Linked DNA regions of Homo sapiens. The protein of the gene in region 7 purifies or fractionates together with the protein of the main gene of each other region. This does not show direct contact. Each region holds a gene or a part of one and is shown on either strand. Other genes may lie near its edges. The genes, in order: ALDH1L1, DMD, AMZ2, MRPL39, DSG2, CREB3L2 and PAK5.

Region 1 (4,534 bases), on a different chromosome or scaffold from region 7:
CTTTTTGTCGTTTCTACTTCTCCTTTTAAGCCAACTATTAAAACCTTTTTTAATGAAAATTATTTACTATGACACCCTCGCGGGAACTGCTGTACTCACTCTACTATTTGCAGTAGGACTGTGAACCCTCAGAGTGGAATATCTGACAGAGAATCTCAATTACTGTAGCATTTTGCTTAATTATTATCCTCATAGCAGGAATAACAGTTACTAACAAAAAATAACACATGGGTCTTTCCAAACATGCACCTCTGCCTGTCATTAAAAAAAAAAAAAAAAAAAGTTACTTCTGTCTCAACCAGTCGGGCCTAATAAAAAATGCTGCTGAAAAGCCTAGGACTAATGTTTTTACTCTGCCTAATTAACCTTTATCAAAAATTTTTAACCGACAGAATCATGGCCATTTCGCAACTACCCAAAAACATCTACAAATGGTGTTGATCCTACAGTCAATCTAAGACCAAAAAACTCTCCACCCCCGCATCAGCAGGAAGTAGCTAGAAAGAACATGTCCCCTCTTGTCCTTTTATAACCATAGGGTCTGGAATGATAGAGCAGGAGTACTGTCATCTCAGACAAACACCGCCACTTTAAATTCCAGCTCCCTTTCTAGCCTCATGCATTTCAAGGAAATCACTTCTCTTCTAACTACAAGCAGCCAGAAAGAGCAGACAGTAAAACACGGATAAGACAGCTGGGACACAAAGGGAGGTGGGGGGAAAGTATCTTGGGTAACTGCCAAACTTCACCCTCATACGATGGGCCCCAGTAAAACAGTGGGCCTTAATAATAAGGAACAAGCACATTCCCTTTCCTTCAGGGGCACTAAGACAGGAAAGCTAAAAGCAGACTCTTGGCTGGGCGCGGTGGCTCATGCCTGTAATCCCAGCACTTTGGGAGGCCGAGGCGGGCGGATCACGAGGTAAGGAGATCAAGACCATCCTGGCTAACACGGTGAAACCCCGTCTCTACTAAAACTACAAAAAATTAGCCAGGCGTGGTGGCGCATGCCTGTAGTCCCATCTACTCAGGAGGCTGAGGCAGGAAAATCGCTTGAACCTGGGAAGCAGAGGTTGCAGTGAGCCGAGATGGCGCCACTGCACTCCGGCCTAGCGACAGAGCGAGACTCTGTCTCAATAAATAAGTAAAAACAGACTCAGGGACTATACCTGCAGCTGCAGGAAAAATGTATGAAAACAGGCACACAACTCTCCCTCCCAGATAAGCACAACAAAGAGACACAGAAGCAGTCCAAGCCTCTGATAAACTCTCCCATCCTGAATCCTTAAAAACTCAGTCTGTAAGAGAGTGTGCCTCTGACCTAACTTGGCCAGAAGGCTCCTTTCAGGTTGATTTTCTCTAAAATAAATGTCTTAACTGGCAAGCCAGCTTTTGTATTTCTTTCCTCTTTCTTTAATTCTTACAGTTCTCACAGTAAGGATTGGAGAAAAATCCCCTTCTGGTTTTGGCAGGAGGCAAGGAAAGCAGTCATTTTTTTCTCAACATATCTACCCTCATAGAAACTATTATACCAGAGCCTAAGTGAATGGACACCCAGGGCCTAACTAACCTAAGTGATGAGGAAAAACCCAAATCCAGCCCCTCTAGCCTTTCTCATCACCTAAAAGGGGTAGGACTGAGAAACACTTGTGAAGGTCACAGCCCAGGGGTGCAGGCTCACTGAAACACTAAGACCTAATTGTAGGACTGTAAAACACTTCCCCCCACCAAAACACCTTGCTACTACATCCACAGGGCTCCAGTATAGTAACAAGGGGATTACGGATAAGAGAACTGCAAGCCAGAGCCTATTTAAGGAGTTTCTACAAAAACCCAAAGACAACAGGGTAGACAAAAACAAGAAGATGAAGAGAGAAAATTATATCCTCTGATACCCACAGCTATAGCAAATAGTAAACACATTCTAACTCCTAGACAGGTAAATATCAAACCTCACACTAAAAGCCTATCTACCTCAGTACCTTTTACCCAATACATTATATCTGATTTTCTGCAAAACAATTACAAGATATATAAAAGACAAAAACACAGTTTGCAAAGATGAAACAAGCACCTAAACCACAATCAGATATGGAAGCAATGTTGGAATTTTCAGATGGAAAATTTAAAACAATGATAATTAAAATGCTAAGAGCTCTAATGGAAAAATGTGGAGAACATATAAGAACAAATTGGTCATGTAAGCAGAGAGATGGAAATTAAGAAAAAAATCAAAAAAAGTCTAGAAATAAAAACCCTGTGATAAATGCAAAGAATGTCTTTAATAGGTTTATCAATAGACTGGATACAGTTGAGGAAATAATCAATGAGATGGATGAAATATCAACAAACACTTCCCAAACTGAAATGCAAAGGGAAATATAGAATAAAAAAGACAAAACAGAATATCCAAGAATGGTGGGACAATTGCCATAGGTGTAAATCCTTGTAATAGGGATATCAGATGGAATAAAAAGAAAGAAAGGAATAGTAAAAATGTTTGAAGTGATAATGACTGATAATTTTCCAAAATTAAAGACAGATACCAAACCAAGATCCAAGCAGCTCAGAGGAAACCAAATAGGATAAAGATCACCCCCCACCCCCCAAAAAATCTATACTTAGGCATATCATATTCAAACTGCAAAAAATAAAAGACACAGAGATAATCTTCAGTGAAGCCAGGGAGAGGCAGGGCAGGACACCTTACCTATAGAGGGAGAGAGATGAGGATTACATCAAACGTCTCTTCATAAACCATGCAATCAGGAATAGAATAGAAAGAATTATTTAAAGAACTGAAAACATTCCATCAACTTAGAACTAACTAGATTCCATCTGTATGCAGTAAAATTGTCCTTCAAAAGTGGAGGAGAAAGACTTCTCAAACAAAAATTGAAGGAATTTGTCACCAGTAAACTGCCTTACAAGATATGTTAAAAGAAGTAATTCAGAAAAAAAGGAAAATTAAACAAGTCAGAAACTCAACATACAAAAGAGTATTAGAAATAAATGTGAAATAATTTTTTTTCTTATTCTTAATCTGAGAGATAACAATTTGTTCAAAATAATAATTGCAACAATGTATTCAGTGATTGTAGCTTATGGATAAGTGAAATGAATGATAGCAGTAATAATAAGGCATGGGAGGGAGGAATCAAGAATACTCTGCAATAAGGCCCTTACACTACCCATAAAGTTGTATAGTGTTATTCAAAAGCAGACTTAAATTAGATTTAAGTGTATATTGCAAACTGTAGGTCAACCACTAAAAAAGCAACAACAAAAAAGTAAAACTGATATGCTAAGAGAGAAAAGAAAATGGAATCATATAAAATGCTCAGTTAAGATCAGAAAAGGCAGAAAAAAGTGTGGAAGAAAAAAGAAACAAAGGGCAAATAGAAAACAGTAATAAATATGGTAAATATTAATCCAACTATATCAAAAAATCACTTCAAATATCAATGGTGTAAATATACCAATTAAAACATGTGACTATCTAGAGTGAATAAAGAATCGTGACCTAACTATATGTTGTCTACAACAAACCCATTTCAACATAAAAACCAGATAGGTTACAAATAAAGGGATGGAGAAAGATATACCGTGCTACCACTAATCAAAAGAAATATGGAGTAGTTCTATTAACTTCAGATAAAGCAGACTTCAGAGAAAGGAAAATTATTAGGAATAAAGAGAAGCACTACATAATGGTAAAGGAGTCAATTATCCCAGCAGACATAATACTCCTTAATATGTATGTGCCTAACAACAGTGCTAAAATGTGTAAAGCAAAAACTGACAGAATTTTAAGGAGAAATAGATGAATCCACTATTATTACAGTTGGAGACATCAACACCTCTCTGTCAGTCCCCACTAACGTTTTTTTTGGGGGGGCGGAGTTTCACTCTTGTTGCCCAGGCTGGAGTGCAGTGGCACGATCTCGGCTCACTGCAACCTCCGCCTCCCGGGTTCAAGCAATTCCCCTGCCTCAGCCGCCCGAGTAGCTAGGATTACAGGCATGCACCACCACGTCCGGCTAATTTTGTATTTTTAGTAGAGCCTCCATGTTGGTCAGGCTGGTCTCGCACTCCTGACCTCAGGTGATCTGCCCACCTCGGCCTCCCAAAGTGCTGGTATTACAGGCGTAAGCCACCGTGCCTGGCCAGTACCCACTAACTGATAGATCCAGCAGGCTGGAAATCAGTAAGGACATAGTTGAACAGCACCATCAATTAAGTGTATCTAATTGGCATTTAGAGAATACTTCACCCAACAACAACAGAATACACATTCTTCTCAAGTTCACATGGAATATTCATCAAGACAGACCACATTCTGTGCCATAAAACATACAACAACAAATATCAATGACTTCTATGATGGAGATTACTGAGATCACAACAGAATCACTAGAAATCAATAACAGAAAGATATCTGAAAAACATTAAAAAAATGGAAACTAAATGACACACTTCTAAACAACATGTAAACAAATCAAAGAATAACTCTCAAGAAAAAATTTAAAATATT
Region 2 (4,534 bases), on a different chromosome or scaffold from region 7:
GGAGGTGACAGCTATCCAGTTACTATTCAGAAGACTGAGTTTATCTTCCACCAACGTCTCCTTCTTGCCCAAAACTGTTTTCAAGGCCTCTCCTACCTCTGTGATACTCTTCAGGTGCACCTTCTGTTTCTCAATCTCTTTTTGAGTAGCCTGTGAAAAGGAGAGCATTGACCTTCAAGTAATGTCTTGTAGTCTTAAGATTTAATGCTTATGAAACGGCTTTCTGTATGGTTACTATGATTCTGCAAGGTTTTAAACCTATAACTATGTATTAATGAATCATGAAAACCATACCATATATACTGAAGCTTCATTGTTGGGTAACTATGAACATATATATGTACATAAGCATAATTCATGTCTTATTTTTCATTATAAATATTTAATAAACATACATATTGTTCAACTAAATATATTTATATTTATTTAATTTATACATGTAGTGGCTAAAGGCAGATATTTGAAAATCCATCCACAAATAAGAAACTGCCCTTAGAAAATTCTACAGTATGGTGCTACTGTATTTCTGCAGCAGGGATTTTTTTAGCCTTTTAGTGCCATGGATCTTTTTGGCATCTGTTGAAGCTTAAAAACCCATTCTCATAATAATGCTTTTAAATGCATAAAACAAAATACATAGGATTTTAAATGAAAACAATTATACTGAAATACAATGTGCAACACATTTTTTAAATATTTGTGATGTAGTAATACATGTTTTATTTCCTAATATGTTAATTAACAAGATCTAGCATCAGGTCTTTAGGATAATTTCAATGTAGTGATGACGAGCATAACTGGTATTTTTAAGTATGTACAATGTCTGGAACACGTTATAAAAGTATCTGTCATTTCTATTAGTGACAAAGTCATGGGTATCTCTATTGCTGGAGTTTGTTGCTCACATTTTAACTGAAAAAACTGCTTACTTTTGGTTTTAATTGAATACAAATAAAGATAAAGTTTTCCCCCAATCCAAGTTCACAGACCTTATTTCTATCCACATACCCTAGACTAAAATCTCCTAAGAGAATACCACTATTTCCTAAGAGGTGATTTATAAAACATGAAAACAATCACATTTAACATGAAAAAAGATAGAGAGTAGTGATGGAAAAAGTGATCTTAGTACAAAGGTTTACTACCTGCCCTGCATAAAGCCCCTTTCCTGGTACATGGCACGGCTGACAGACAATGTGGCCACTCGGCATTCCACTGAGTCTGTGCCTGGTTCTTTCCCTGCCTGTCTAGTTAGCCAGCTGTGGGACATTCACAGAGAGCTGAGCCAGAGCCCAACAGACCCTTTTTCTCCTTTCTCAATAAGGTTAACAGATACAGAGACTGTGATTGGCACTCGAGTTGAAAAGCTATTTGCGAGTGGAGCTGATGTCTTAATCACAGAAAGCCAAAGCAAAACAAAATCATTGAGAAACAGCAATAACAGGAAAGTGGAGAAAGTCCAGATACAAATAATCAATTAATAAACACACAAGGAGCAGCTCTGTAATGCCAGCCTACATCTAATTTCTTAAGAAAAAAATTACAGTACAAGAGTAAGAAATTAGGTATAGGCTGGCCTCATAGAGTCACTCTCAACATGTCTTTTCTATCTTTATAATATACCTAAGTAGTCCTGTGGCTGTCTTTCTGCCACGCCATAAGGTCCTGGTCCACTCGAAATCACTTCTCATACTTTCTGTTTTGGTTTTGCCTTTGGCATCGGATAAACAGGAGAAATAAATGAGGAAACAATGTATAAAAATTTTTATGCAAGACAAAAACACTGTTTCTTCAATTCTAAGATATGGTTTTATGTCACATTTTTTCAATAAAAACATGCCTGAAATTAAGGTACTTAATGCCAGATGAACTCGACAGCTATCATGCATGGGGTTCTTCATATGTAGGTGCTATTTGTTGCACACAGGTGAGCTTAGCAATTCATAAAAGCAATTTCTTCATTTATCAATCGTAAGTGTTGCCTGAGCTCCTATTATATGCCAGTTACTACTGTAGCAGAATCATATGTAATTCTCCTCAATATATTCTGGGAGATTATTAGAAGTCTCTCATTTGGGTAGATACAGACCCTTTAGAGCTTAACTTCAGAGTAGACATAGACTAGATTTTATTCCTTTTAATACTTTGACTTCAACCTTTTGTAGTATACAACCTCTACAACCATAGATGTTAGCCATTGTTACTAGGCTCTGTGGGATAAAACGGTAGAGAAGTCCCCATCCTTCAAAAACTTATATCCAAGTATGAGTTTGTCAAAGAGATGGACATATACGCAAATGAGAATTATCTACTTTCTATATTCCAGTCTACTGGCATCTCGCTGTAGTTGATTTATTCACAAAGGTAACCCTTCACAAAGTTGAAGCTTAATTTATATTTGGATTACTAATTATCTCTTAATAAGTCTTCATAAAGATGACACTATATTTTAGCATCAATGTAAAAAGTTATTGTGTACATAGATTTTGTTTCTTACATGACAAGCAATGCAATTAAAGGCAATGGAATTTTCCAAAACTCAGAAGAGATCACAAAAGTTTTGAACTTAGGGGATAATGTTGCAGGTAGTTCCTGGGTCACAGAAACCATTATGTGTCAACATCTGGCCAAATTCCTCCAGCTAATTTAAACAATGTCCAGTGATGTTCAGTTGATGGGAACAAAATAGGAAATGTGGACTAATTTCTAGTGCCTTCTTAAGTTCCACAAAATTATAAATTAAAACTAAAAGATGTTCAATTTATCACCATTATCAACTTGTATTTGAAAAAAGCAGTGATATGATGGTGGTTTATAACTGCTAATGGTCAAAAGTGATTCACAGGACAATTTACACTCTGTAAAAAAAGAGACCTAGAGTTAAACTTTTATGTATGCTATTCAACAATAAGGAACCAGTATTCAATCATTTGTATACATGCTGTTTTGGGTTAGGAAAAAATATTGTGTTAATTTAGTAGGCCTTAAATTTTTCCCTCAAATGTGTTTTTAATCAAAGATATGACTTAAGAAATAAGACTTAAATAAGACTTAGCCTTTAAATACTATGCTGAGCTTGCTTTCTGGAGATCTGAAATACTAATTGACCAATGTATATCAGGTGCCTAATATCCAGTCTGTACTGTGCTATTCACTGCCAGAGATGAGGAATGAGGTAATCTTTGCAAACCTCACTCTAATCATGCCTACAGTGTAGCTGCAGAGGAAAGCTTAAATGCAATAAAACAATTTGATATCATACTAGAAAAAAATCACATTTTTTTTTGGAAACAGATGAGCCATGGCTGGAATAAGCATGAATGACTACAAGGGAAAGGTGACACTTGAAGGCGGAGTGTGCATGGGATGGTTTGGATTGACTAAAGACAAAGTACGAAGCAACGAGAAGGTATGAAAGTTAGAATACAAGGCTGCCATAGAGGAACAGGGAATTCTTACTGTAAACTAAAAGAATACATTTGATGAGGTTGTTGACGAACCATTTTCTCTGGCTCTAATAGTTTCCCACAACACAAGAATGTCTGCATCTTCAGATGTATGGAGAACCAACCTAGAGCTATTGCCTTGGCCATTGTCTTTATACCTGTACTCATTCCTCTCAAAGGGAGCTCCTTATTTATAGGGTTGGCGAGATGGAAAGAAACAGCTGAAAAGATATGGCATTTCCTCCTTTTCAAAAGCATCCGATTCTCAGCATACATGCCTTCTTCTGCCTTGTGAGGTGAGAAGTGGAGAGGGTTCTAGAAGATCTACTCTTCTGAAGGAGCAAGTTCAAATTCAATGACTAAATTCACTAAATTATAACTCAGACACTTTAGGTTTTTCAGTCATGTAGTAATGTGATTGCTGCTAGGATCGATTTTAGGGCTGAAGAAAAAGCAAGATTGTGTACACTCAGTTTTAACTTGACCTATGACATGATTGTAAGTCCACCTTCAGGAGATTCAAGAGAAGGTGAACGCAAACTATATACTTGGCACTAAGGGTTTTTATGATAGAGGGGAAAATATCTGACATAAGTAAAATCCAATTAAACTATAAATTCTCACAATGTCTAACATATTATTTTCCATATGTTACTTTGTAACATTTGATAGCTCCAGTATAAATAGTCCAAATACTAAGCACTAACTTCCATGATTTCAAACAAATTTGCTGTCTACTTCTTAGCCATAATTTGTAAATGCTACTCTAATTTCCTTATTATAAAAGAATGAGTATAATGAGTTAATTTCTTCCAGTGAAGTCATGCCCCATGTTGATGGGAAGGATGAAGAATACATTCTGATTCATTCCCCATATCTACAAGTATAATTGCTTGTAGAAATTTAAAAAGGCATGTTCGGTTCAGGGTTCAGCTATCGGCTCACTTCACTGATACAGTAGCAAGATGGAAAAACCTTCTCCATTGGTCTCTGCTGATTATACCATCAGCATTTTTCATTATTTTTATTTAATGGTAGAACGGTAAAAATTATTGGAAAAATCATCTGGTCCTATAGGAACACCTTTA
Region 3 (4,340 bases), on a different chromosome or scaffold from region 7:
TCTTGTCAGGAATAGTCCAGGCTATGGGTCTGATTCAGATGGGCCGTTTTAGGATCGTTTTTGATATTCATTGCGGCGGTACAAGTTTTGTAGCCAAACTGACTTAAAAGATAACATTTTGTTTCTTTTTGTTTCATAGCAACACCAATGAATGATAAAGGTTATTGAAAATTTAGAGTTGGTTTTGTTTCTAATTTGAATCTTCTTACTCATAGACTGGGTAAACACTGAATAATCATCTTAAAGTCTGTTTTTAAATGTTCTTCCATATTGTAGGCTCTCTAGGAAACACCAGAATTATCAGTGAAGAATATATTAAATGGCTCACGGGCTACTGTAAAGCATATTTCTATGGCTTGAGAGTAAAACTCCTAGAACCAGTTCCTGTTTCTGTAACAAGATGTTCCTTTAGAGTCAATGAGAACACACACAACCTACAAATTCATGCAGGTGAATTACACGACTTTGCAATTCGAACTGAGTATATGTATATAATATACACTCATACATTTATGTATTTCTTTTTAAATAGGGGACATCCTGAAGTTCTTGAAAAAGAAGAAACCTGAAGATGCCTTCTGTGTTGTGGGAATAACAATGATTGATCTTTACCCAAGAGACTCGTGGAATTTTGTCTTTGGACAGGCCTCTTTGACAGATGGTATTCCGTTTTTGGCATTGTTGTTAGAAGCTTCTTCAGCTTGAGAATATTTGAAGATGTTAGAAGAGGGAAAAAATTCCAACCAAGAATCATATTGATATTTAAAATATTTTCAGTTGAGACATTATGCCATAATGGGAAGTGTGCTGTTGGTAGATTGTGATAATCTAGGTTCTGGTTGGCCACTCACTACCTACAGGACCTTAAAGGTAACAATACCCACATCATGGAGTCATTTGGAGATAATTTACATAAAAGTGCCTGTACATAAAAAGTGTGGATAAGCCTGGACAACATAGACCACATGTCTACAAAAAAATAAAAATTTAAAAAACTAAATTAGCTGGGCATGGTGGCACATACCTGTAGTCCTAGCTACGCAGGAGGCTGAGGTGAGAGGATTGCTTGAGCCCAGGAGGTTGAGGCTGCAGTGAGCCATGATCGAGCCACTGCACTCCAGCCTGGGCAATAAAGTGAGACCGTGTCTCAAAAAAAAAATGTATATATAGGCCTGGCATATATATAGGCATACAGCATAACAGCTAGTAAATGTCAGTAATTCAGTAGCAAGGTGAATTAAACCAATTACAGTTTGAGCTATCAATGGATGTGAAAATCTTGCTAATTATTTTTCAATTCTTTTCATAGTCATCTTGCACAGTTAGAATAGCCATAGACTAAGTGTATGCTTCTTTCTCATCATACGACATTTGTTTTTTAATTTAAAGAGTCAAAACGTCCATCTTTGATTTGAGATATGTAATAAACCTTGACTCATTAGGAACTCTGTATGGTAATATTAGGGATGGGAAAGGTTCTGCAAACCGGTCATATTTTTAACCTTTTTTTTTTTTTGTCATCTCTCTACTTCTCCCCTCCCCTTAATTATTGTTCTTATTTCTCTAACTTCATCCCTAAGAATCCAACACAGACTTGAAAGGGAAAAGGCCCCCTAAGGGGAGTGGTTCATTAGTGTTCTGGGGATGGGGAGTAAGTACAGGGACTATCCTGAGAGTTTATGGTCTGTCTGGATGTTACATTAGCCTTAGGATTTGTGTGGGGTGGTAAGCTTTTTGGGACAAATGTTTCTACTAGAGGTGGGGGCTGTAGGGTTATAGAGCCTCTTCCCACTTACTCCTTTATTCTTTATTCTCCATTTATGTGAGGTTTCTTGTGGCCCCCATGGCCCTACCAGCATGCACTCTTGGAGACGTGGGTCACTACTTTCTTACTGATTTTGGTGGTGTGAGGTAGCTTTTTATCATAAGTTTTCTCTTTTATTATTAACCTGATAGAGATGGAAACATTGAAAAATAATTCTATCTACCTTTTATTTTTCTTTTGAGACAGAGTCTCCCTCTGTCACCCAGGCTGGAGTGCAGTGGTGTGATCATGGCTCACTGCAACCTCAACCTCCTGGGCTAAAGGGATCATCCTGCCTCAGCCTCCCGAGTAGCTGGGACCACAGGACCACCACACCCGGCTATTTTATTTTATTTTATTTTTGGCCAGATGGGATTTTTTTTGGCCAGATGGGATCTCCCTGTGTTGGTCAAGCTCATCTTGAAGTCCTGGGCTCAAGCGAGCCTCCCATCTCAGCCTCCCAAAGTGCTTTGATTACAGGTGTGAGTCACCACACCCAGCTAAAAAAATAATTTTAAAACCATATGTTCGTTTATCTAGATATTGCTAGCTAACTTATCTTATGTGTTTGAGGAGGTCAGGAAACATTTCCCCAAACTGTATTTACTTTAATTCTTTTTTTGGTAAGTTTCTTAAATATTACATGACATAAAAGATTTACATAGGAAAGTAGCAGGATTAGACAGTGACAATATCTTAACACAGTGGTCTTGTTTTCTCCGAGTTTACAAAGATTGATATTTTTAAAGTGAGACGCATTGACTACGAAAAAAATAGTCTATTTGTAGGATTATTGGAAGAAGGAAATGTCCTTGCTGAAAGTAGTGAAATATGCTCACACTTGATTGGCCAGAGGGGGTTACTTGTGATAAAGGAATAGATTTAGTGTGCTCTTAATTTCCAGAATGCTATCTTTGCTTAATTTTCAAATATCAGTCTACATTTTCTGGGTAAAGGGAGGTGAGGAAGTTTGTTTTTGAATCAAATTAGATTGGACAAATCTACTATGGGTTTATTACTTTAAAAACTGAACGAGAGACATAAATAAAAGTGATCATGTAAACAAGTCGAATTATGAAGCAGTACCCTGTAGGGTGAGTTATGTAGCAAACCGTGTTCTCTGTGCTTGCAGAGATGGTTGATATAACTCTAAATGTAACACAGGAAGTCAGTTACAAGGGTATTTATTCTGGTCACCAGACACTAGTGACAGAATAGAGTTGAGCTGTTCTTTGAAAAGGGGGTAGGGTTGGGGAAGGGGACGAGGTTATTCTGTCAAAAGCCGTGGTTTAAAGCATGGGCTTCAAGACATCAGGGGCAGTTGTCCTCAGTCAGTGCTGCGTGAGGGAAGGCCAGCAACCCCTCCAGACACACGTGTAACAGATCTGTTTAGTGTGTCCTTAAATAGTGAAATCATGACTTCCTATTGTTCATGTGATTTTTTTTTTTTTGAGACTGAGTATCACTCTATCGTCAGGCTGGAGTGCAATGGTGCGATCTTGGCTCACTGCAACTCCGCCTCATGGGTTCAAGCCATTCTCCCGCCTCAGCCTCCCTAGTAGCTGGGATTACAGGCACCTACCATCATGCCTGGCTAATTTTTTTTAGAGACAGGGTTTCACCATGTTAGCCAGGCTGGTCTTGAGCTTCTGACATCAGGTGATCCACCTGCCTCGGCCTCCCAAAGTCCTAGGATTACAATCGTGAGCCACCACGCCCAACCCATGTGGTTATTTTTTATGATTCCTTTTTGAGTACTTGATTTGGAGTACTTGCTACTTTCAGAAAAAGACTTCTTTTGTGGGAAAAGACTCTCTGAAACTTCAGTTTCTCAAGCATTTGACCTCAAGTCCATTAAGTTTTACAAGGCAAGGCAAAGTGGATAGCAGCAAAAGATTTTGATAGGGAAATCTGGGGCAAAAGTCTTCCTTTTTGGTGGCAAACCATAAGTGTATCAGATGGTGTGGACACAGTGACACAGAGATGCACTCACTGGCCAGATGGGCCAGCAGTCTCTTCTTTCTTTGGTCTTTCTTCAGGGACCTTACTCTCATTCTGTCACTGTTTGTCCTTTTTTTGTAGGTGTGGGGATATTCAGCTTTGCCAGGTATGGCAGTGATTTTTATAGCATGCACTATAAAGGCAAAGTGAAGAAGCTCAAGAAAACATCTTCAAGTGACTATTCAATTTTCGACAACTATTATATTCCAGAAATAACTAGTGTTTTACTACTTCGATCCTGTAAGGTAAGTTATTACAAAAATCTGACAGGACAGTTCTTTAAAAGAGATCTTAGTTCCGTAAACTGTATATTGTCAGTCCGTAAGGTAATATTATAAATGAGTTTGTATCATTTGTATAATTTTGGTGCATAGTGCTTGACTGAAATGATCAGTAAAACAATTTAAATGGATACCTTCATATTGAAATTTACAATATCAGTGCCAGTTTTTCTGTACTACTAGTTACAGCCTTGGCTGTACCCATGTGCTATTAGTGTAATTCTGAATTCTGGTATGAGTGGGTAACCTACTTT
Region 4 (3,697 bases), on a different chromosome or scaffold from region 7:
TGTTCAGTTACTACTGCTTCTTTAATTTTCCAAACTATTTCTTTAATATTCTTTAGCTTTTTAAATTTTTTTTAATTTTACTTAACTCCAAGTAAACATGCTGAACATTTTTTCTTTAGTTTCTTCATCTAAAATGATCACTGTGACCAACTAAAAAGAGAAAATTACTCCATCCATTCAAAGGTAATTTCTTCTCATGAGAAAAAAAATTATATAACCCTTACTCAAGAACATTATGGTGAAGTCCCTAAACAATAATTCCTATCTACATAGTCATTAATAAAGACTAGGTTTATATATCATTATGAAAAATTGTCAATAAATATTTCTTGGGTAACCCCTTCATGTGCTAATGTTGTGTTCAAAATTTGGGCTTACACAAATATAACAAATCCTGAAAGGCTTAACAGACAGAAAATAAATGTACTGGCAAAGAAAACAATCAAAAAATAGTATGTGGACATATACAATCAAGCACAAACTTATATGAATAATTATTTGTTAGAGATTACTCTGAGACTGTTCCATGGAGGAGGTACGACTCAGGCGAGGTAGTGAAGAATGACTGCGTAGTAAATAGAAGGAGAATGGGAAATGGAGTCTAGAAAGAAAAACTATCATGAAGAAATAAGCAAACTTGAAAATAAGTTTAATGTGTGATGCTTAATGTGCCTGCAAGCTTAACCAGTGTTTGTGGCATTGTGGGAAATTAGGATAAGGAGGAAGTCCTAATGAGGACAGATTACACAGGACAGCTATCAGATAACCTAAGTAAAAGAGGCACACTTAGCCTATGAAATAGGAAACAGGAATAGTTGTGGTCAAGAAATACAATCACCCGGGCCGGGCGCGGTGGCTCACGCCTGTAATCCCAGCACCTTGGGAGGCTGAGGGGGGTGGATCACGAGGTCAGGAGATCGAGACCATCCTGGCTAACACGGTAAAACCCTGTCTCTACTAAAAATACAAAAAAATTAGTTGGACGTAGTGGTGGGCACCCATAGTCCCAGCTACTTGGGAGGCTGAGGCACGAGAATCGCTTGAGCCCGGGAGGTGGAGGTTGCAGTGAGCTGAGATCGCGCCACTGCACTCCAGCCTGGGAGACAGAACAAGACTCTGTCTCAAAAAAAAAAAGAAAAGAAATACTATCATTCCTACTCATTAAGTCTAAATGCTAATGACAAAGAATAAACTACAAAAACACAAACATTCAAATCTGGTTTTTCAGGACATTAGGATATTTGCACATTTACTGTTAATGGCTAAAGGCGGCTTTAAAATACACCTGACAAATCTTAATCCTCTAAATATTCATTAAGTTTACAAAATAAATCCTAAGACCTAACTGATACCATTACAACTATTAAGAACTATTACTATTACATAGTAATATTCTTATTTCTCTTCAAGTTCTACAATATCATTTTCACGATATTAACAAATAAAATCAAAAGAGAACTGCCAAGTTACAACTTTACCCTTACCAACACACTAGTGAACAATCACAACACTGCTTTGACTATTGAGACAACTTACTTTTTTCCTTTCTCTTTGTTTCTTTCATTTTTCCCCCCTTTGGTTGTTATTGGTTAATTTTGATGAATTTCTTTATAGAAGAGTACTCAATAGCTGTCAAAAACACTTACCATTTTCCGAGATCTTTCCAATAGCTTATCCCATATTGTAAAATGTGCCTTGAAAAGAAAAGATTTGCGATGAACTAAATGAAGCAGTAATGTCAAAGTAAAAAGGACAGAGTCTTTATATAGCTTTTAGAACAAAATAAATAAAAAGCTAGGCAGTACTAATTTAGATAAGTGGTTATAAAAGTGGATCATAGTAGCAAAAAAAGGTGCTACATGGGGATAGCTGCTTTTTTGCTTTCTTCAATCGCATGAACCCGGGAGGCAGAGGTTGCAGTGAGCATTTAAGAAAAAAACGCTTAAGGATTGAACGTGCCCTTCTTTCACTTTTGCCCATCTTAATCATTTCCATCATAGAAAGCATTTCTTCTAATAGGAAGCAAAAATCTGCCCTACTTTCCCATAGACTGTGGTTCAATCCTTAAACAGCCAGTTTCAACATTCTAGAAGTCATTCTTCAAATCATAAGCAATCACAAGAAGACAGTCATTAAAAACCAACTGTGACATCTTCACACTGAAATGGCAGAAGCAGAGGATTCATCAAGTTACCCTAAAGAATAAGTAAAACCTAACAAAGACAATAGTAAATTTTTTTTTTTTTTGAAATGGAGTTTCACTCTGTCGCCCAGGCTGGAGTGCAGTGGTGCGATCTCAGCTCACTGCAACCTCCGCCTCCCAGGTTCAAGCAATTCTCCTGCCTCAGCCTCCCAAGACAATAGTAAAATTTAAACTCAATTTCCTTAGTCCATAACAACCTCCTGTAGCAGAGGATTATCAGAATGCATTAAAGAAAACTGTGCAAAGTGTATCATGACCACATCAATTTTATTAGGTCAACTGAAAGTGGTAACAAGACATATGGGCAGGCCAGTGACTACTCCACACTGAATGAGCTCATAAAATCTATAATAAAAGGTAAAATTAATAAATATCAACATACAAACCCTTCCAGGGAAAGAGCTGACTGGTATGTTTAAAGGGAAAACCATGCCTGACTCAGGCGGAATGAACTGCTGGTGCAGAGACCTTAAGCTGTGGCTGGAATATAGTGAGTGAGGAAAGGAGTGGTGTTAGATAAAGTCAGAGAAGCAGGCAGGGACCAGATAATGCAGGGCTTTGTGAGACAGGGTAAAGAGTTGGGATTTGTTCAAGGGAAGCCATTGGAAAGTTTGGGGCAGAGGAAGTACATAACAGATTGTGTATTAAAAAGATCACTTTGGCTACTAAGTGGAAAATGCACTGTAGATGGCAAGAGTGAAAGCAAGGAAGGTGAGTGAAAACAAAGAGGAACTTGGATAAGGGAAGTAGTAGTAGATGAGATGTTATAAGGTGCATAGATTCAGAATATGTTTCAGAGTTAAAAGTTGAAAGGACTTGCGGATGGATGGGCTGGGGCATGGCTATGAGGGGAAAAGAGAATCAAGGATTACCTTAAACAACTAAGGAAACCAGGGGTATCCAATCTTTTGGCTTCCCTGGGCCACACTGGAAGAAGAATTGTCCTGGACCACACATAAAATATACTAACGCTAATGACAGCTAATGAGCTAAAAAAAAAAAAAAATCGCAAGAAAACCTCATAATGTTTTAAGAAAGTTTACAAATTTGTGTCTCATTCAAAGCCGTCCTGGACTGCATGCAGCCCATGGGCTGTGAGTTGGACAAGCTTGAGTTAAAGGATGATCCCATTTTCTGAAATTGGGAAGGCTAGGAAAGGAAGCAGGTATGTGGAGAAAAGTCAAAGTCAAATGTATAGGAGAGGTGTGCTAAATTTTACAAAATGAGAGGGATGAAAGAAGATATAAATAAATAAGAAGATACAGTAAGTTCATAGACTGGAAACCTCAACATATTAAAGATGTCAATTCTCCCCAAACTGCTATACAGGTCTAATGGACTTATCAGAATCTCAGGAAGACTCTGTTGACATTGAAAATATTATCCTAACATTAAATGGAAACTCAAAGAGACTAGAAGAGTTAAAACAATTTTGATTAAAAAACAGTAACAAGGGAGGAATTACTCTACCTGATTTCACAGCCTATTTAGAGC
Region 5 (4,534 bases), on a different chromosome or scaffold from region 7:
AGGGAAACAACTGATGATTGGCAAATCACCAAAGCATAATATAAGACTCTTCAGAATTTTGTTTTATAAATGTATATCCTTTTCTGGTTTCAGTAACTTAGGAACTATTGGCATAAACTTCACTGGTATTCCCATTTTGATGAGCTCTGTGAGGGCAGCATGCTGTCTGTTCTCTTCACTGCTGTATTCCCAGTGTGTGGAACAGAGCCTTGCATGTAGTAAGCGCTCAAAAAAGATGTGTTGCATGACTTTGGGTTATGGGCACAAGGTTTTTTACAAACCCAGTTTATTCCAATCAATCCTGCTTTGTACATTCAACTTATCAGAGCTCCGCCTCCCTGATATTCCCCGCTTGCCTTGTTTCTTCGTCAGCACCAAAAGTAGGCAGACCCTCTGAGCACTTCCTGTCCTTCCTGACCGTAAGATGTTCTCAACCAGTCCTGCCTGCCCTACCCACGCTCCAAAGACCTCGGGTTTCCTTTTATAAAAGAACAAGGGACTGCATCCTGAGGTCACATGAAATATCACTCTACTTGACCACTGAATATGGACAGAGGGCCGCCTCCAAGGCAGCCTAGGCTAGTGCAGTGACAGAGGAGAGGTCTGTTAGACAAGGGGTCCCCAACCCCCAGGCTACAGACCAGCACCTGTCCATGGCCTGTTAGGAACCAGGCCGCACAGCAGGAGGTGAGTGGTGGAAGAGTGAGTGAAGCTTCATCTGTATTTACAGCCACTCCCCATCACTCGTGTTACCACCTGAGCTCTACCTCCTGTTAGACCAGTGCTGGCATTCGATTCTTATAGGAGCTCAAACTCTATCGTGAACTACTCATGCCAAGAGATCCAGGTTGCGTGCTCCTTATGAGAATCTAATGCCTGATGACCTGTCACTGTCTCCCATCACCCCCAGATGGGACCATCTAGTTGCAGAAAAATAAGTTCAGGGCTCCCACTGATTCTACATTATGGTGAGTTGTATAATTATTTCATTATATATTACAATGTAATAATAATAGAAATAAAGTACACAATAAATGTAATGCACTTGAGTCATCCCAAAACCAACCCCCCTACCCCTAACTTCCCTGTGGAAAAACTGTCTTCCATGAAACCAGTCCCTGGTGTCAAAAAGGTTGGGGACTGCTGTATTAGAGCCATTGGTAGATGTGCAATTGAAAGCACAGCACTCAACAGTCTGCAGTGTACTTTTATACCATCATCTCCATGCTATGGCTACATATACAGATACATAACGGTAAATGACTTGTCTCAGCTTACCAAGTTTGTAGGTAGGTACTGGAGCTGGGACTGTATCTTTTGCTCAGGGATTCCTTGCACTGCTTTCTCATCTCAGATTCCCTGGAGCCTAATGTGGTACTTGGCACATAATAGACACTTGATGAATGTTTGTTAAAATTGTTGAATTGCCACTGGCTGATTTCAGTCTTCTTATTAATCGTAGTAGCTGTAGTTAATGTGCTGTTGACTGTTTGACATAAAAACGAATCTAGGCAGTAGCCAGTTCATCATTGGAAGCTGCCAAATGGGAGTGGCAGATGGGCATGCAGGTGTGTTTAATTCTTTACTACATTGATCAAGGGGTCAGCCTTGGTCTTTGCTTCCTCCTAGGGGTAAAATAAAATCTAAGAAGAGGGCTCTGAAATTGTTATATGTTTCACTTTATTATTTCTAATTACTGTTTTCAATAGTACATATATTTTTGCAACAGTGATTTTTTTTTAATTGGACCATAGTTTTAAAAAAATTAATCTTTAAGCTGGTTTTGATGATTTGGATACTATCTGAACCTAGTCTTGGTATTCCACTCAGCAGCCACAGACAGCCTCTTTTTGATGAACAAGGCCTTGAATCTGTAAGACTCCCTCATCCTGCCTTCGGGTTTTGGAGTAATTCACCCAAAACAAGCTTGGTAAGGTTGGATCAGGGTGAAGAAAAGAAAAATAGAGCTGTAAATAAGTGAAGACAAGTCCAGGAAGGGACATGCAAATTCCAAAATTGTGCAATATAAATTTAGAAATATATCAAGGTTAACCTTATCTGTGTTCAATTTTGTGTCTGTACAGTGGTACCACTTTTACTGCTGATGTGCCATTGCGGAAAGGGCGCCAAAGGCTTTACCCCCATACCTGGCACCATAGAGATGCTGCATCCTTGGAATAATGAAGGAGCACCACCTGAAGACAAGGTCAGTGGATCAGATGTCAATATGACTTGTCTTCTTCTTGGGTTTTAAAGGGGCCTAGGGAAGTGTTTCTTACATGTTTGGTTGAGTGAGTAAAGTGATCACTATGGATTTCACTCATGTGCCTTTGTTAAGCAAAGAGTTCAAATGACAGCATATTTTGTGTTTGTTGCTGGGGCAGAATTGAGATAGTTTTACTCTGTTTTGACACTTCCCATGTTGTAGAGAATGTAGAGCAAGGTTCAGGAAGAGCAAGAGTGTGTAGGAATCTAAGTCTTTTGTCCTAACATTAAATGGGCAGTTTTCATAACCAGGAACTGCTTCATTTCCATTTCCCTCAATACATAGGGTTTGCAGAGGTAAGCCCACAACCCCCATGACACTTGTAAAATGTTGCAAAACCCCATTTCCCAACTACATCATAGCCATATCCCTTTGTCTCTCTGTTGCACCTTCACCCTGGACCTCTCACCACCATCTGTTATGAGCACCATTTCTAATAGGATAGGATTTAGCATCAGGTGGCAGAGAACTCAGAATAACAGTGGCTTAATCCTAAAATGGGCATTCCAAGATCAACATGATGATTCATCCGCAGCATGGTCCCCAGTTCCCTCTTCCTTGTTTTTCTTCCATGGTTGAGTTCCATTCCCACACTGTCCTCATGTCCTAGTTCTAGCTACCTAGCTGCCGTCCCCACATTCTAACCAGCACATGGGAGAAAAGTGAAGAACCCTCTTTAAGCACACTTCCCGGAACTTGTGTACACCATTTCTGCTTCATTCACATTGACCACAGTTTAGTCAGGTGGCTATACCTAGTGGCATCAGAGGCTTAGAAATATAGTCTTTATTTTGGGTGGCCATGGATCCAGGTCAAAACAAAGTTAAGAATTCTGTAACTATAGAAGAAGGTATCAAACTGTAGAGGGAGGTTGAAATGCCATTGGTCGCATAGAGTAAAGGAGCTGAGACTGTTTGGGCTTTGTTTTCTCTTTGGGTTCTATCCACCTATAAAACAAGAAGAGAGAAGAAAGGAGATCTTCATAAGACTTACATAAGTTATTCAACTCAAAATACTTTTTCTAACTGGCCTCAGTGGAAATAGCTTATACCTTCCTATGCCCACTTGACTCAGATCCTTCTACCAAGGATGAAGGATTCCCTCCATCCTCCTGACTCAGTTCTCAGCTGTGTTTGCTCTCACAGGTGGTGCCATCATTTCTGCCAGTGGATCAAGGGGGCAGTCTAGTAGGAAGAAATGGAGTAGGAGGTATGGCCAAGGAAGCCACGATGAAAGGAAGTAGCTCTGCTTCCATTGTCAAAGGGCAACATGAGATGTCCGAGATGGATGGAAGGTGGGAAGAACACAGAAGCCTGCTTTCTGGTAGAGCTACCCAGTTTACAGGGGCCACAGGCGCTATCATGACCACTGAAACCACGAAGACCGCAAGGGCCACAGGGGCTTCCAGAGACATGGCCGGAGCTCAGGCAGCTGCTGTTGCACTGAACGAAGAATTCTTAAGAAATTATTTCACTGATGTAAGGATGAGTTTTATGTATTGGTGGTGGGGGGTGGGGGGAACATTTGTATGTGAATGTGATATTATTAGGGTAATCATTGCCTTGGATCCAAATGAGACTTTGGGTTTTTTTTTTTTTTCTTTTTTCAGGGAATACTTATAGGCAATAAGGAAAGAGAAATGGGACCCACAGAATCAGTCGGTGTTAGCTAAATTATGCTGCAGTAACCATGATCTTAGTTCTCACACAGGCATATTTCTCACTTACAGTTATGTTTTTGCCAGTCAGTCAGCTCTGCTTTCCTTCATGATGTCTTCATATCAAGATGCACACTGAGAGAGCAGATTGTACCTGGGAAGCTGCCGTCCTTGTGACCCAAAGAAAAGAACAAGGCAGAACCAGGCAATGGCTCTCAAAGCCTCCACCTTTTTACACCACATTTCATTGACCAAAGCAAGTCATATGACCAAGACAGATGTCAGTGGGTCGGAAAGTTGCATCCCTCTGCAGGAGCAGGCTTGGTAGGGATGAGCTCCGTAGGAGAGGCAGAGGATATATAACCTAAAAAACACAATCTATTAAGTCCATTTAAATTTTACCTTCTGTATGAGAGTACTTGGCTTTGCTATTATGAGGGTCCACCAAAAAATGATGAGAAAAGTTCCAGGAAGATGATCAGATGCAATAAGGAAGCTCATGCTAGAATTGAGGAATTAGAAGCAGAACTGAAAATAAAAGTATAATGTAGAGGTCAGGCACAATGGCTCATGCCTGTGATCCCAGCACTCTGGGAGGTCAAGGCAGGCAG
Region 6 (4,534 bases), on a different chromosome or scaffold from region 7:
GTAGAGATGAGGGTTTTACTATGTTGGCCAGGCTGGTCTCGAACTCCTGACCTCGTGATCTGGCCACCTTGGCCTCCCAAAGTGTTGGGATTACAGGCGTGAGCCACCGCGCCTGGCCCAGAAAGGAGTTTTGAGTCCAGAAAGCATCTACTCTGTGTGCTGAGGGCTGCTCCAATTCACCCACCACTCCTATCCATTTAAACTGCTGAAAGCAAAATCATTCTTGTGGCCAACCTGTCCTTAATTTGCTCAAATTGGGAGAACTTGTTTCATTGGTACTAGCTGGGGGTGAAGATGTAAGCCCAGGAAAAATCTGCTTGTCCTTCTAGCACCTGAATGCTATTCGGGGGTAGACTGTGGTGAGAAGCAAGTTATCTGCGAAAGCCCACAGCATTCTGTGAACAAATGATTTGATGATGTTTTCCAGTGAACTTATGTGGCTGTCTAACATTGTTACATCACAGCACACATTTTCCGAGAATCCTTGAGACCCAAGAGAAAGCATCTGCTCATAAAATCTTTCCACTTTGCCATATGCACTGGGTTTGGGGGTGGGGGATGAGGATGAGGAGGAGCTTCAACTCTTTACACCACTCACAGGGAACTCTTCCCGGGTGCTCTAACTCAGGAGGGTGTGTTGTCAGATCCTTTTCTATGCCTTGCAGTGTTCAGAATTTGCAAAGAATTTTACCATCTGCTCTGTGTGCTGATGTCACACAGAGCAGAGTATATAAGACTGTTCTTATCCCTCAAACTTTGCCTTTTAAGGAGAGGCACAGTTGTCCAATTTTAGGGATAAAACGTCTCCTTTTTTTTTTTCTGCTCTTGCTCTCTTGTCTTTTTCCTGGAGAAAGGCTAGAATCTGTTTCAAAGGATGGTTTTAAAGACCCTTGACTCTGGGCTTGAGGGTCCAGTTGAGCAGGCATCTTTGTTCTTTCATATGTTGGCTTCGTTTCCTGACTCTGGAGGTGCTGTGAGCGTTTAAGAACCACAGGCTTGAGCTGCAGGTGGCTGTTTGCCTCTCTGCCTTAAACAGAGCCGTTCTTGTTTTTCCTCTCCTTTCTCTCTCTCTCTTCTAACCTGCCTGTGAATGCCTGTTACTCTGTGTTGGCATTTCCAGTCACAGCCCCCACCTCTGGCCTTTCTCTCTCTCTTCTAACCTGCCTGTGAATGCCTGTTACTCTCTGTTGGCATTTCCAGTCACAGCCCCCACCTCTGGCCACTCCTTCTGTTGTTCTCTGCTGGTCATTTTTTATTTTTCCTTCTCTTTGCCTTTGTCCCTTTTTTATGTTTTTGTCAATGTTTCTCATCTCTTGCTTAAATGAGTTCTTCTTTTAATCGACATTTTCTTAGTCTGTTCAGGTTGCTATAACAAAATGTAATAAACGAGGTCACTTACAAACAACAGAAATTGATCTCTTACAGTTCTGGAGGCTGGGAAGTCCAAGATAAAAGTGTTGGGAGATTCCGTGTTGGGCGAGGGCCTGCTTTCTGGTTCACAAAAAGCAGCTTCTTGCTGTGTCCTCTCATAGTGGAAGGGAAGCACTCTAGTCTTTTCAGCTCCTTATAAGGGCACGAATCCCATCAATGAGGGCTCCATTTATGACTTAATCATCTCCCAAAGGTGCTGCATCCTAATACCGTCACATAGAGGACTGGGTTTTAGCATAGGAATTTAGGAGAGACACAACCATTCTGACTTTAGCCACCATCCAATCAGAGTGTTCCTTTTCCTTTGTTCTCAATCGCTGAGAAACAAGCCACAGCCTGTCAGGGGTAATGTGGAGGCAGTTACCTCTAACTCAGGGCAGTGCAAGAACAGGACTTTCAAGTGTGAAGGCTGATTCTGAGCCCCAGTGAGCTCTGTGACAATGGTGCTAGAAGGTACTGGTGTTCGTATCTTCTTCCAGAGGAAACTGTCCCTTGGGGCTCTGTTGAAATGCAGGCACAAAGGCACGGCGGCCTTCTTGGGTCACATGGAGAGATCAAAAAGCATCTCTTCTCTGTCAGACTCCCCTCACGGCTGTTGTTATCATTGGCAGGACTCTCCTTCAGCAACTCCAGAAGCTTCAGACTTTGGTGATGGGCAAGGTTTCTCGAACCTGCAAGTTAGCTGGCACGCAGACTGGCACCTGCCTCATGGTGAGCTTCCCAGCAGGGTAGCACAGTGACCGCCCCTGGCCTGGCCCCTGTCTCCCCTCTCCCTCCACTTGCCAAGGCCAAGTGCTGTGCTGTAGGAGAAACCACATGGAGGAACTCCACTCTGAGGCTGTTCCTCGGTGAGGCACTCTGGTGATGTGACTGGTGGGTGCAGTCCACTGGCCTGAAGAGGAGAGTCTGTGTCCCTGGGTATAAAGCTGTGCTGTCCAGAGGCTGAAGTCCACAGCCCCTCGTGTTCTCTCTCCCCTCTTTCTCTCCCACAGGTTGTGGTGCTGTGCTTTGCCGTTGCATTCGGCAGCTTCTTTCAAGGCTACGGGCCCTATCCTTCTGCCACCAAGATGGCTCTGCCCAGCCAGCATTCCCTGCAGGAGCCCTACACAGCCTCCGTGGGTAAGACAGCATGTGGCAAGTTGGGCAGGGTCTTGTTTTATTTCCCTAGAGCTGGGTTTCTCAGTCTTCCAAAAGGAATCTTCTGTGAAAGTCCAATGTTTAAAAAGTGGTAAAAGTGGAGCTTCTCCCTTTGAAGAGGCAAGTGGGGGTTCCCCTGGGGCCCCTCATCCACTGGACTGCGGCATCACTGGGAATTCTCCAGAGCTTGACAGAGCACAGTTTGCAAACTGCTGTTCTAGACTGTGTTCCCTGATCCATTCTGACATCTAATTTTTGAGTTCTGATAAGGGAGAGGGAAGCAGATGAGGGAAAGAGTCTGTCGCTTTCTGTGACGTTTTAAGAGAACTGCTGTGTTTCTGCCTCCACTGAGTGGAATTGTATGAGTAATGTAATGCAATGTATATAGTAAGGGCTTGTAAAGTGAAATTAAATAAACAGCAAGGTCAGGGCCGGGCGTGGTGGCTCACGCCTGTAACCCCAGCACTTTGGGAGGCCGAGGCGGGCAGATCACGAGGTCAGGAGATTGAGACTATCCTGGCTAACACTGTGAAACCCCATCGCCACTAAAAAATACAAAAAAATTAGCCGGGCGTGGTGGCAGGTACCTGTAGTCCCAGCTACTGGGGAGGCTGAGGCAGGAGAATATTGTGAACCTGGGAGGCGGAGTTTGCAGTGAGCCGAGATCGCACCACTGCACTCCAGCCTAGACGACAGAGCGAGACTCCATCAAAAAAAAAAAAAAAAAGAATCAGCAAGGTGAGGAGTTCAAGACCAGCCTGGCCAATATGCTGAAACCCCGTCTCTACTAAAAATACAAAAATTAGCTGGGCATGGTGGTGCATGCACCTATAGTCCCAGCTACTTGGGAGGCTGAGGCAGGAGAGTGGCGTGAACCTGGGAGGCGGAGGTTGCAGTGAGCCGAGATCGTGCCACTGCACCCCAGCCTGGGCGGCAGAGCAAGACTCCATCTCAAACAAACAAACAAAAAGAATCAGCCTGCCTTCCAAAACCTTATGCCCAAGATCTAGAGAATATGGGGACTCCGGTGTCAGATAAGAAGCGTATGGTGTTCTCACCTAGAAATAAAGGGATGGTGAGTAAGGAATACACACACAAATTCACACCTACACCTATAGGAATGAGCATGGGGTTAGGCAGTACAGTAGTCCCCCCTTATCTGAGGTTTTGTATTCTAAGCTTTCAGTTACCTGTAGCCAATGAACATACCTGCAGTTACCTTAAAATAGCTGAATACACTATAGTAAGAAACACTACCTGCAGCCAATAAAAATACCTGCAGTTATCTGAAAATAGCTGAGTACACCACCATAAGAAATTTTGAGAGAGAGAGGCCACATTCATGTAACTTTTATTAGAAGATATGGTTAGAATTGTTCTATTTTATTATTATTGTTAATTTCTTACTGGGCCTAATTTCTAAATCAAACTTTATCATAAGTACATATGTATAGGAAAAGGCATATGAACCCTACATGCTATATGCCCATATATAAACCCTGTATGGTTTTTCCCATACATATATACCTTATACCATATATATAGGGTTCAGTTCTATCTTCGGTTTCAGCCGTCCACTGGGGGTCTTGAAATGTATTCCCCATGGATAAGGGAGGACTACTGTACTGGATTTGGGATAGGGAAAATTTTGCCATCTTGAAACGTCTGTGGTCTTCACCAGGCAGGTGTGTCTCTGCCAGGTATGACAGAAGTGCTAGCATTCCAATTAAATAATTTCAGTGGCCTGTTGAGAATTTTTCCCCCCAAGGAACTATCTCTCTAAATTTAATTGGAAGCATAGTTTCTATGTCATGGAAAATTGCTACAGAGCCATCTAGCTGTGTGACTGTCCTACAAAACAAAGGAGATTGTCTCTATCCTTTGATTTATGGCTTTGGCTTTGTGTCTCCTCTTCCCTTTCTAAATGAGATGCCCTGTACCTCATCCCCCTGCCAGACCTACTCAC
Region 7 (4,534 bases):
AGAGTGAAAGGGGATGATGCAACCTAGTTGTGAAATTAATTGCTAATTAACTGCTAATGCAACTTCATTGCTTCAGGTATTAAAAGGAGCTTATAATCAGGCAGGTTGCAGGCTTTGCACCCACAGAAGCTGCCCCTGTGCTACTGGAAATGCATGCAATGTCTGGTAAAAGGCTTAAGCCCAAAGAGTTGGATCCCAGCTCTGCTGTGAGCATACTAAGCCTCTTAAAACCCATTTCCTCATCTGTACAAAGGGGTCAAGAATTCTTGCCTTACAGATCTGTGAGGCTCAACAAAACATGGCATGTATCTGGTACACAGCAAATGCTTAATGAACTGGTGGGATTGTTATGCTGGGGGCTTCTCAGTAGGGAACGGATGTGCTGGGCCAATACAAAGACACAAGTAGGTGGCTGCCTGGTCTCTGGAGAGCACAGGAATCAGCAAAGTCAAATACATGGCGGCAATTTCTCCAGCTAGCTTCCTTCCGTGGAAGGCAGATTTGTCTGCAGGCGAGGGTGGAAAGCATTCTCTCTCCACATCTGGCAGTTTTCATAATTTTGTGGTGGGTATGGTGCTATATGGTTTTTGTTTGGCTTTGCTTCCCACCCTCCCAACCCCAGGGTTTCATCTGCTTAGTTCCAGCAAAATACACTTAAATGTAGGGAGAGGAGGCCAACATCAACAAACTCATAACATTCTTGATTCCTGTCCTGCTAGCAGGGAAATTAAGTAGGTAGATAACATTGAAGGATTTTTTTTTTCTGTGGGTTAACATTAATCTTTTTTTTTCTTTAGGACAAAATGTAAAACTGTGTCAAACACACACACGTGTGTACACACACACATGTGTACACACACATGACCCTCCTCATTTCTGCTTCATCTGGAGACCTACACAAGTTTTGTGCTTCCTTTTATTACTGGAGATGAAAACATGACCCAGCCTCCTTTAGGAGTCTCTGCAAGCAAGGCCGACTCATCTGAGTCGTGACCGCTATTTCTTCCCTCAGCTGGAAATCCAAATGTGATTGGTACACTCTAAGAGTACCGTTCTAAAGACACAGGCACCTCCGTCTTTTCAGAGAAATGTTGTATTTTTAATCAAGTGAACGTTTTAATTACTAACCTGCCTCCCACCTCTTATCCTCCCACAAAACAAAAACCTGCTCATGAATCTCTCACGAGTTTCCTGTGAAACATGGAGCAGCAGCTTGCTTCTTTGTATTTCTGATCGTAAGGGCTGAACACCCTTGGTAGAAGTTCCCATGAGTGATTATGCTGTTTTTGTTGTTGTTGTTGGTGGTGGTGAGCCACAATAGTTTGTGCATTGTTTCTGGGCTGGCAGAGCCAGATTTCAGGGCAGGTCTGCTTTGTCTTATATTTGGAAGTCTGCAGAATAGAGGGAGCCTGTAGGGAATTAAAGTGAATCACCCCTCCCACCCTCGTTCTTCTGTCACTTAGACGAAAGTTCTGGTGGCCACTGGGACTTCTCATGGATTTTCTTGGCAAATGCAGTTGAGTCCCCGAGATAACATACGCCCAAATAATAGGAAAATATTGAGCAGGGAGAAACACCAGACTTGAGTTCTTGTCCTTGTTTTGCAACCAACTAATTATGAAACTGTAAGTGTGTCATGTGGCTCTCTGGGCCTCAGTTTCCCCTTCTAGGAAATGAGTGTGCAGGGATTGCTGGTGGTGACATTAAATCCCAAAAGCCCATGCTATGTGAAAATGTGGACTCAGGGATACCAGTTCATCCTTTTTAAAAAAATAAAAATAAAAAAGAGAGAAGACTGAAACTCCAGAATTAAGAGTTCTAAAACTCTTGACCTCTAAAACTATTTGGACTATAGACATGTGTAGCCCACCCAATATTCATTTCCAACATCCAGGAAGAGCCAAATAAGGCTCCAGGACCAAAATGCAGCATCATCTGGGCAATGTTTTCTCTGTAACTATGACCCCAAACAACTCCCTAACACAAATATGCAAATAAGCCACACGCACACAAAATCTTAGATAAAAAAATAACCACTGATATTCAAAGCCTCAGGATGTAACTCAATTCAGCTATAGAACATGTTAACTTATTTATTTCATATCACTCACAGAAATGCACAAGTGATATGCACAAGAAATGGAATAAACTATCTCATGTATCATGAGACATGCGTATGAGTTCAAGTAGATTTTGCTTGTGGTTAATTAGACCTCTTTCCAACAGTCACCCTGGCAAGCACACAGGAAGAGAAAGCAGTCATGATATCCTGAGTGTGGGTGTTCAAGTACATTAATACCACGAGATAAAAAAAAAACACTGTCACTATGTGAATTTTAACTGGAGGAACATATCTCAGGCCTCTATTTATCAAGATTTGTTTTTAATTTTATATCCTGGGAACTAAGGTGACAGCTTTTTTGTTTCTTCTAAAGAATGGCTGAAGTAACTCCAACAATACACTTAAATGGCTTCTCTTCAACATCTTGGATGAGGTTAATGAGAAATAAGAAGCAAAGGAAAAATATCGACTATCTATAATCAATAAATCAGGTGAATGCAGGCAGGCTTGGGTTCCAGAGTTTTCTGTGCTGCTCACCAAACTGTCAAGAGTTTGGTATAAATAAAGTACATGACTGCCCTGTGAGAAGTCATGTCCCTCTCACCTGCTTCAAGACCTCTATGTAATCCACATTCCACACCCTACGGTCCATGTTCTTTTGCTGGACAGGTAAGGTAGCAAAAACATTTCTAAATGACAGGGAAAAATAAATCACTTGCACATTCTCAAAGGTATTTTCCAAGACTTTAGACCTTCGGACCCATAGACCTTTGCCTGTGCTTTTAGTTTCAGTAACTTCTCCGGCAGTGATTCCCAAACTTTAGGATATCATAGACCAGTCAAATTTCAAAGCAAACTTGGAGCTGCTAACATTTAAACAAAATTTAAAAGAGGAATTACTACAAAACAAAGTGAAAAGGGGACAAAAATGGTCCAGCGGTCCAGCAACCATCTGTCACCCCCAAATTTCATATAAAAACCAATATTTCAAATCAAATATAGTAGAAAGTACATACTCTTAATATGAAGGGCCATCCCCTGAGTTGAACAAAATTGGCTTTATTTAAAAATTACCATGTTATACTGAGTTTCTTTCCTTTTTAGCAGGTCTATGCAAACTTTGCCAGGATGTAGGAACCACTGGATGGCTCGATCTAATGCTCTATGATTGTATATGACTGATCCACTCCTTAACAGGGAACTTAGTCAAATACAGTCACATCATATTTATCACTCATATATCAGAATTCTATCTTTCAAATCAATAAGTTTATTCGCCTTTTAATGAGAAACCACGTAGGAGGGCCCAAAAGATAGATTTTTATTTTAATGAATATATATGCCTTATCCTAAACCTCTGCCCTGGGGCCTCACAAGTGGAGATAGGGTGGGTTTTGATATTGATTTTCCCTTAAAAGGCAAACAAGTACTTTACAATCCAATCGTATAAAAAGGTCGTGCCAGCACCACCCCTGTGGAGGTTTTTGCACACGTGAGGGAAAGGAGGTAGCAAACGTTACCTTTGGAATGCACATTGTGGGCTCGGACAAGCGAGGGTAGGTGTAGGAGTTGTAGGAGTGTCCTTGGGGATGGGTTTTAAATGCACTTGCTCCAAATGGCATCATCGGTTCCTGGAGTCCCGAGCCTGACCTGGACCTCTGCCGCATGGTGGGCTGAGGGCTTGTCTGATTCAGGTACGAAGACTTTGGCCTCCTGTCATAGTCATCCAGGCTGGGTCCCCATTCACTTTCACTGTACGCCAGGCTCTCCTTGGAGCACCCGCTGGTCCCTGCAGTTCTAGAAGGTGTGAATTGGAATGAATAATCCAGAGGGGAGCTACTCGAGGCTCTCTGATACTCCCACTTGAGGTCACTGTATTCACTTGGTTTGCTCAGTGAGTCCAAATGTGAGTGATAATCGGCAGAAAATCTGGCAAAATCGGATTTCAAAGGCTTCACCTCAGAATAGTAGGCCTCCCCGTGCTTCATTTTCATTACGTGCCCATTTTGCTTGGCTGCGTGGCTGCCTCTATAATACGGATCCAGATCATCTCCATAGAGACTCTTCTCCCTGTACTTTTCGGTCGTGTAGTCAGCAGTAGTATCGGATTCGCTGGAATACTGGGAGAAGGTGATGAAGCCATTTTCTTCCGCGTGGCCTGGACCGTGGCTGGAGGCTCCCTGATCTGGGGTGGGTGGGCTTTCTTTCCTTAGGGAGTTGGAGCGAGTCACCGAGATGTTGTCAAAATCCTCTAGCAGGCCGTTGATGGAGGTTTCCTTGCAGGGTTTGTTTCCTCTAACGATTGTCTGGGAATAATAGAGGGAATATTGTTTAAAGAAAATATTTCATGGATTTAAATTGATGGTGGCATCCCACCCCCACTCCATCCAAATTAAACTACAGAAGAAAAAAGACCCCGGGAACACTTAACACAAAATGATAAAGAAAATGTGTTGATTGACTTCAGTGGTG

What was found.
Region 1: the proteins of PAK5 (region 7) and ALDH1L1 purify together in Homo sapiens (co-immunoprecipitation; one large-scale study listed by IntAct). This does not show direct contact.
Region 2: the proteins of PAK5 (region 7) and DMD purify together in Homo sapiens (affinity purification with mass spectrometry, with the first as the bait; one large-scale study listed by BioGRID). This does not show direct contact.
Region 3: the proteins of PAK5 (region 7) and AMZ2 purify together in Homo sapiens (affinity purification with mass spectrometry; 2 studies listed by BioGRID and IntAct, with this or other methods). This does not show direct contact.
Region 4: the proteins of PAK5 (region 7) and MRPL39 purify together in Homo sapiens (affinity purification with mass spectrometry; 2 studies listed by BioGRID and IntAct, with this or other methods). This does not show direct contact.
Region 5: the proteins of PAK5 (region 7) and DSG2 purify together in Homo sapiens (affinity purification with mass spectrometry; one large-scale study listed by BioGRID and IntAct). This does not show direct contact.
Region 6: the proteins of PAK5 (region 7) and CREB3L2 purify together in Homo sapiens (co-immunoprecipitation; one large-scale study listed by IntAct). This does not show direct contact.

What each region holds. Positions count from the first base shown.
Region 1 is NC_000003.12:126,170,162-126,174,695, forward strand, and holds part of ALDH1L1 (cytosolic 10-formyltetrahydrofolate dehydrogenase), read right to left. Parts: intron 1-4,534. UniProt on the Homo sapiens protein: Cytosolic 10-formyltetrahydrofolate dehydrogenase that catalyzes the NADP(+)-dependent conversion of 10-formyltetrahydrofolate to tetrahydrofolate and carbon dioxide.
Region 2 is NC_000023.11:32,365,050-32,369,583, forward strand, and holds part of DMD (dystrophin), read right to left. Parts: intron 151-4,534; coding exon 1-150. UniProt on the Homo sapiens protein: Anchors the extracellular matrix to the cytoskeleton via F-actin. Ligand for dystroglycan.
Region 3 is NC_000017.11:68,250,518-68,254,857, forward strand, and holds part of AMZ2 (archaemetzincin-2), read left to right. Parts: intron 1-276; coding exon 277-450; intron 451-532; coding exon 533-661; exon of another isoform or gene 662-870; intron 871-3,886; coding exon 3,887-4,050; intron 4,051-4,340. UniProt on the Homo sapiens protein: Probable zinc metalloprotease.
Region 4 is NC_000021.9:25,587,189-25,590,885, forward strand, and holds part of MRPL39 (large ribosomal subunit protein mL39), read right to left. Parts: intron 1,695-3,697; coding exon 1,647-1,694; intron 602-1,646; coding exon of another isoform or gene 509-601; exon of another isoform or gene 422-508; intron 1-421.
Region 5 is NC_000018.10:31,539,109-31,543,642, forward strand, and holds part of DSG2 (desmoglein-2 preproprotein), read left to right. Parts: intron 1-2,084; coding exon 2,085-2,206; intron 2,207-3,037; exon of another isoform or gene 3,038-3,213; intron 3,214-3,411; coding exon 3,412-3,744; intron 3,745-3,993; exon of another isoform or gene 3,994-4,287; intron 4,288-4,534.
Region 6 is NC_000007.14:137,883,011-137,887,544, reverse strand, and holds part of CREB3L2 (cyclic AMP-responsive element-binding protein 3-like protein 2), read left to right. Parts: intron 1-2,042; coding exon 2,043-2,142; intron 2,143-2,423; coding exon 2,424-2,550; intron 2,551-4,534. UniProt on the Homo sapiens protein: Transcription factor involved in unfolded protein response (UPR).
Region 7 is NC_000020.11:9,576,563-9,581,096, forward strand, and holds part of PAK5 (serine/threonine-protein kinase PAK 5), read right to left. Parts: intron 4,369-4,534; coding exon 3,583-4,368; intron 1-3,582.